Linked DNA regions of Homo sapiens. The protein of the gene in region 1 interacts with the protein of each later gene in a pairwise test. Each region holds a gene or a part of one and is shown on either strand. Other genes may lie near its edges.

Region 1 (3,747 bases):
CAAATCATAACTTAATTGTAGCCCACTAAGATCTTGTGTCATCTCCTTTTATTATAAATTATTTAAAAAGTGAAAATGAACCAGGGGATTCAAATGTATTATTTGTTTATGGTGTTCCTCTCCTCATCTGGTTTAATTGAGTTTTCTTGACTAACCTTCAAGCAGCATTACATCTTTTCTAAGTTGGTCCTCTTTAATCATGCCCATCTGTAGCTGTTTTCTGTGTAGGACATTTTAATTACTATTATAGTTTTAATGACTTTTTTTTAAAAAAAGTTTTTTATATGTGCACAAGGTGAATTCATCATAGCAGTGCAACTTTAAATACAAATCAATAAAATTAATTCATTTAATTTTAAGGTGCTAGAATTAAAAAATGAGTATTTGAATTGATATTTAAAATGCCCTCTACCTGACTGTATGGGCAATAATTATTCTTTCTTATGCAGCCTTATTAATTTTGATGGTTTGAAAGACAGAAATCCCCCAAATAGACACTAAAACCCTAAATGTTCAACATCTGCATTGTCTCGCCAGATTCTCCTTCAGGTTCCTTTCCTCAATCTAGCAGTACTGTGTGTAACACAATATGAAAACTTGCCCCACAAGGCTGGTTTTACTTAATGATACTTAGCAGAAGGGCTTTGCACTTTCATGATAATTTCCACCAGAAAAATCTCTCTGGAACTTACTAACAATAATCAGGCCTAATATTAGCCTCAGTCTGGAGATTTATTTAACCTATTTGGCAGAGTAGATAAAGTCGAATGCCTAGGTATTCAAGCATCTAGGCTGTGCTTCGGCCTTGGAAAAAGACTCTCAGGCTAGCACCCTAAAAGCATTCCTCAAAACTTGATTTATACTAGAAGTGACATTTCTTACTCTCTAGAGGCTGTGAGATTGCAAATCTTGCAATTACTTCCATTGCTTTTGGGGGCTGTGAGAATTTCCGCCTCTCATCCTCCACAGTGAGGAGGGTAGTCGGGAAAGGCTTTCTCCCTTAAGTTTTCGTCAACTTTGAAAATAAGGACTGTGCTCCCTACATCACCAGCAATTGACAAGGATCCAGGAAATGCCTGCTAGGCACTTTCAAACTCGGAAAAATGGGAGTATGAGGGAGGCTAAGTAGGCAGTATTTAGCTAGCAACTATTATTTCCTTTATGTTTCTACCTTGTTAACTAAGCTTCCACTACGGTTCATAAATCTCCAATATCGTGAATTAAAGAAACAACAACAAAAATCCTCTTCTGTGTGCTTGTGCGTGAGGGGATAGAAGTCCACTGCCCTAAGATGCAGGACTTATCTTCCCAAACAGGAAGAGACCCATTTCTGAGAAAGATGGTAAGTTTCCTAAGGGTCTCCTCTCAGATAGAGGGGATGGCAGTCCCCGAGGGGCGAGCGGGCGCGGGTCCTCAGGGTCCCCGTGCGCTGAGAAGGCAGGTGAGGCCCCGCCCTGCGTCTCGACTCCGGATCCCGGGTCGCGAAGGGCAGCCCAAGCGGGTCCCCGGCCCCAGGCGCCCGGGTCACTTCACCCCACCTGATTCGGGCCCTTCCCTTCTCCTCTGTCGGCCAGCTCTGCCGCCTCGCTCTCTCTCCCGCCCCCCGAGTCTCGTTTCAGTCATCCCTTTGTCCTTCCCCGGATTGGCAGGTTTTATTATTCCGCCTGAACAATCCGGCCGCCCAGTGGCTGAGGGTCGCTGACGTCGGAGGCAGAGCCGGGGAGTAGTTGGGATTTTGCTCTGTCAGTAACACATGTGTAAGAGCCGCGGAGGGAGCGAGCGAGCCGGCTAGAGGCCAGCGCCGCCGCCGCCGCCGCCTCCGAGCCGGGCAGCAACAGCCCCGGCAGCGGCGCAGGCTCCAGCGCGCCGGGCCCGGCCGGCCGCAGCCCCCGACGCCTGGGTGCGCCTGCCTGCCGGCCTCCGCACCGTCCGCCGCCGCTCCCGGGGCTGTTGTGTCTGCGACTGCTCCCGGCCGGAGGTGCAGGGAGCTCAGCCGAGCCGCCGCTGCCATCCCGGAGCGAGCAAGCGAGCGAGCGCGCGGGAGGGAGGAAGGCGGCGGCGGAGGAGGAGGAGGAGCGGGAGGAGCGCGGGCGGGGGCGGGGGCCCCCGGGCGGGGGAATATACAAAGTGAAGCCACATTGCCAAACTTGCAGCAGCGATTGCAGCAGTTGCTGCCGCTGCGCCGCGCCTGAAGCCGCGCCGCGCGGGCCGAGGGCTCCTGCAGCTGCTCGCGCGCAGTCGGAGGCGGAGAAGGACGAAGACTGAGACTGACACTTCTGCTCCCGGCCGCCCGGCACTTACGCGGGGGCCCCCCAACCCGCCCCAGAGCAACGCGATTTAAAAAAAAAAAAAAAGCCGCCCTTAGCCCCCTCCTCCCCTTTCCTGCTTCTGCGAGAACTCCCTCCCTCCCTCCAGCTCCGCCAGCCCAGGCGCCCCTTCCCTGGAAGCCGAGCGGCTTCGCTCGCATTTCACCGCCGCCGCCTCTCGCAATATTGCAATATAGGGGAAAAGCAGGTAAGGGGGCGGGTGGAGAGCCGCGGGCCGGGAGGTGGGAGAGGGAGGGAGGGGGTCGATTCGGGCCAGGGCTGTTTTCTTTGGCTTCCTTCCCCTGACCGTCCCAAATTGCAAGTAAACAATACGTCGGCTTAGATAAAGCGCGAGTCTGAAACTACCGAGGCCGGCCTGCGAGCTAGCGCGGAGGGCAGCCCCGGGCCGCCAGCTTTGTAGCGGTTCCTGCTTACAAAAGGGCTCTTCTTGGAAACGGGGCTGGTGGGGACCGTAGAGGGGGTGGGGATATTTCTAGTTCATAAGGGAAAGGCAAGGGGTGCTTAGATGAGGATTTTAAGTATGAGAAGTAGTGTGTTTGGGGGGGTGGGGGTGGGGATAGTCACGATACCCCCCCTCCCTTCTAGTAAACACTATTTTTGAAACAGTGGCAGGAAGGATCTAAGTGAGCAGGATTCGGTATTGCTGGTTCTTTTAAAAAAATTCTTCTTGGCTTATAAGTCTTTTGTTCCAATCCAGGAGAAATACGGTGAATCACCTAATTAAAATCAAGACATGAATTAAGCATCCATTTTTGTACTACAAATTGCCAGCGTTACGTTTGTCCCTCCCTTGGTCTCCATTAAAAAACACCAGAGACGTTGTTAAAGGGGGGCAGATTTTGCCTCTAGCTGCCAGTTCTGCTTTCTATTTCACTGACTATCCCAGGACCTAAATTGCTTGGCTATGTAATTACTAGAGTATAAGCCTATTTAACTTAAAAGCTTTCTTTTTTTTTTTTTTTTTTCCAACTCTAAATGAAACTTGATGAGGGCCCGTCCTTAGTTATCAGGGGAGTCAGTTTCTGGTCAGTCTTCTTGATTCATCTCTTTTAGATTTAATCAGCATTAAGGTATTGCTTGTCCTTAAGAGCTTTAGCTAATGGGGTTACTGGATGCTTTTCTCAGTGTAATGTTTCCTTTTCAAAAAAAAAATACATATATATTTACCTCTCACTAAAGATGGGGGCGGGGAAGAGCTTGGAATCTCCTCCCTCACTCTCCTTTTAAAAAGGAATTCGGAGCGATTAAAACGTTGGGGGAAACAGTTTAAAGATCTAGGGCAGGAAATGCAGATTCATTTGGGTTAGGGCTGAAATTGTAACAAAAAGCAATTCCTCGAGTAAATGCATCAGATAAATCAATTTACATAAAGGTATGATGCATTCGGATAAATGCAATGCTAATGGGTTTTAGAGTGGTC
Region 2 (3,747 bases), on another chromosome or scaffold:
CTCCCAAGTAGCTGGGACTACAGGCACCAGCTACCACGTCCAGCTAATTTTTTGTATTTTTAGTAGAGACGAGGTTTCACCATGTTGGCCAGGATGGTCTCAAACTCCTGACCTTGTGATCCACCCGCCTCGGCCTCCTAAAGTGCTGGGATTACAGGCGTGAGCCACTGCGCCCGGCCTAATTAAAAAATTTTAACTGATATGTTTCATTATTTAGTGTTGCCCCAGATCCCTCTGGAGATGTGCTTGATATATCGTCTGTGCACTATATTATCTTTCTCAAATTTGAAAACCTCTGAATTCCAAAACACATCTGGCCCTGAGGTGTCACAGAAGGGCTTACAGACACCATCCAAAGCCATTTATCCACAGGTACATATAAATGTATGACACATTTATACCTTACATTGTTACTCTCTACTGAAAAGTGTATTATGCAATTTTCAGTAATCGATTTTTTGTTTCAACAATAAAAATACAAACTGGCCGGGCTTGGTGGCTTATGCCTGTAATCCCAGCATTTTGGGAGACAGACACAGGATGATTGCTTGAGGCCAGGGGTTCAAGACCCCTTTGGGAAGACAATGTGAGACGCCATCTGTACCAAAAAACAAAAAAAGCCAGGTGGGGCTCCTGTAGTCCCAGCTACTGGGGAGGCTGAGGAGGAAAGATTGCTTGAGTCCAGGAGTTTGAGGTTGCAATGAGCTATGATCGCACCACTGTACTCCAGCCTGGGCAACAGAGTGAGACCATCTCAAAAAAAAAAAAAAAAGAAAGAAAAGAAAAGTAAAAAGAAAATGAAAAAAATACAAACCATCTTAATAAAAAAGGGAAGATTCAAACAATATAGAAATCTGTAAAACTCTCCCTTCCTCAATACCATTGTACCCCCCGACTTAACAGTCTGACAAATGACGTCCCAGACCTTTTCCTGTGCTTTTACTAAAAAAGTCATCCATAGCGGGGAGAAAAGGTGCTTGATGTGTTTCTACATAAATGAGACCTTACTGCACAGACATTAGCGGCACTATGAGCTTCCGCGGTATGGATATGCTCTAGTTTCTTAATCAATACTCGAGTGATGCATTCGGGTTGTTTCCAATTCTTTAGTCCATCCTAAGCACTTTATTTATTCTGCTCCTCACAAGACCCCTGAAAGGTGCGCGCACCATTCTCATCCTCTGGTGACTTCGAAGAAGACTTTCCTCGAAGAGGGCCAGGACTCACCAGGGTCGCTCAGCAGGACACGGCAGGCGGGAAGGCGAGCCAGCCGGAGCCCCGCGCTGTCCACCGCAGCCTCGCCCGCGGGGCGAGCGGCGATCGTACAGGGGCGTCTGCCGGGGGACCAAGCTGGCAGAGCGGCGCGGGGGACCAGCACTTCCTAGCAGTGCGCGCGCCCTCCGGCCTCTGCCTCGGGGCGCTGATCCCGGCCACTCGGAGCCCGGTGCTTGATGTTGGAGCCAGGCGGCCAGAGGCCCCGTCCCCGCCCCGGCCCCCGCCCCCGCCCCCGCCCCCGAAACACACAACGCCCACTACGGCCCAGGAGATCCCACTTCCGCCGCGAGCTCCCGGCGCCGGAAGTCCTCGCGGGGCTCGCTGGGAAACTACGCTACGCAAGCATTCCCCAGCTCCCAGAAAGCCGTTCGTCCACTGAGCCCGCCTTCTCCATGACCGATGGCCAATGAACAGGAAGAATTCTCAGGCTGCCTATTAGAAGACAGAAACTCCATACGCGTCATACACCTGCACCCGGGAGGAAAGGCGAGGCTCTGCATCTAGATTTACCTCGTTCTCTTTTGTCTCCGCTTTTTTTTCACATTTCCTTGCGACCCTGGCCCTTGAGCGACAAAAAGGGGAAGCCAAGGCTGGCCCGAGGAACGGAGAGGGCACATGGCCTAGCCACAAGTGGAGCTTCTGCTCCGCCCGAAGGGATGCGCTGGAGCGGCCTCTTCCTTCTGCCACGGTCTTTCTTTGCCAACTAGTAGGTGAGGGCCGAAAGGCCGCGGGCCGTGGAGCTCGGGCCGGGGAGACTCTTTTCTAGCCTCTTGGGTCCCGCTCCTCCCAATTCCCTGGAGAGGCGTCGAGCTTGCTGGGAAGTGCCCTCGGGTAAGGGGCGCGGAGCCTCCTGCGGCGATCCTCTGTCTTCGGGTCGCCTTAGCAGGACGCGGCAAGCGGGACACTGACCTGGCCGGAGTCCCGCGTTCTCTCACCAGCTGCTTTGTCCACGAGTTGCTGCTGGGCGTCAGGGGTCCCACGGCCCGGAGGGATCTAGAGCAGGGGGGCTCGGGGTCCTTTCCATACCCTCGGATCCTCTCCCACTCTCTCCACGCCTCGACCCGGAGATGATTTCAGGCTCCAGATCTCTTTCATAAATGGAAAGAGTTTTTTTGGTTTGTTTTGTCTTAATTATGTAGGTGTTGCATGCTTGGAAGAGAAAATTTAGAAAATTAATTGGAAAACCATAAAGATAGCTTTCTCGTGATAGCCACAAGGCTTGCTCCCTCATTCTGCTCATATGTCACCCCCTCAAGGAGGCCTTCCCCAGCTCTGTAAACAACCTGTGCTCGGCGTTAACTTTTCTCCCTAATGTTTATCACTACCTGACATATACGTGTTTCCCACGACTCAACGATAAGTGTTCATGAGGGCAGACACTTTTTAATGCCCTATGACAAGCACCTAGAATTGTGCCTGGCACATGGTAGATGCTTAGTAAATATTTGTTTAATGAATGAAGGTAAAAAACATTTCTAATACGACCATCCAGGAATAAGTACTATTCATGTTTTAGTGTGTTCTTACAGTTTTACTGTTCAGACAGTTATATGCCTGTGAATATATATTATATATGTGTGTATATATATATATATATATATATATATATTTTTTTTTTTTTTTTGAGACAGAGTCTCGCTCTGTCACCCAGGCTGGACTGCAGTGGCGCGATCTTGGCTCACTGCAACCTCCGCCTCCTGGATTCAAGCGATTCTTCTGCCTCAGCCTCCCGAGTAGCTAGGATTACAGGCATGTGTCACCACGCCCGGCTAATTTTGTATTTTTAGTAGAGACGGGGTTTCTCCGTGTTGGTCAGGCTGGTCTCGAACTCCTGACCTCAGGTGATCTGCCCGCCTCGGCCTCCCAAAGTGCTGAGATTACAGACGTGAGCCACCGTGCCTGGCGGAATTTTCATATTTTAAGTCCCCCACCCTTGGACATTTAGATTTTTTCCATCTTTCTGTATTTGCAGATATGCTTCTACGTACACCTTTATTCATTTGCTTGAACATTTCCCTGAGAAAAACTAGAAATGGAATTGCCAGATTACTTTGTGTACATGTTTCCAAACTGTCCTCCAGAAAGAATGTAATGCTTTGAACTTCCACTTGAGAATCAAATGTTTACCTTCCTCTGTTCCTCCAGATTTGGACATTTACAGTGTTCAGCCGTTGTTGTGGCATTCCAATTCAATTGGGAAACAGCTTGATGTAGCGTCCCCATAAGGTCCACAGTAATTAAATTTTTTTTTTTTTTTTTTGGTGCGGTAGTGCAATTTCATGGCTCACTGCAACCTCCACCTCCCAGGTTCAAGCGATCCTCCCATCTCAGCCTCCCTAGTAGCTGGGATTACAGGTGCACGCCACCACACCAGGCTAATTTTTGTATTTTTAGTAGAGATGGGGTTTCACCAGGTTAGCCAGGCTGGTCTTGAACTCCAGACCTCAAGGGATCCGCCTGCCTCAGCTTTCC

What was found. The genes of interacting proteins can lie anywhere in the genome.
Region 2: the proteins of LMO4 (region 1) and ZNF213 interact in binary tests that used the Homo sapiens proteins (3 or more experiments, as listed by UniProt).

What each region holds. Positions count from the first base shown.
Region 1 is NC_000001.11:87,326,731-87,330,477, forward strand, and holds the start of LMO4 (LIM domain transcription factor LMO4), read left to right. Parts: upstream 1-2,149; 5' UTR 2,150-2,514; intron 2,515-3,747. UniProt on the Homo sapiens protein: Transcription cofactor. Plays a role in establishing motor neuron identity, in concert with MNX1, acting, at least in part, to disrupt LDB1-LHX3 complexes thereby negatively modulating interneuron genes in motor neurons.
Region 2 is NC_000016.10:3,132,868-3,136,614, reverse strand, and holds the start of ZNF213 (zinc finger protein 213), read right to left. Parts: upstream 1,587-3,747; 5' UTR 1,228-1,586; exon of another isoform or gene 1,170-1,227; intron 1,159-1,169; exon of another isoform or gene 1-1,158. UniProt on the Homo sapiens protein: May be involved in transcriptional regulation.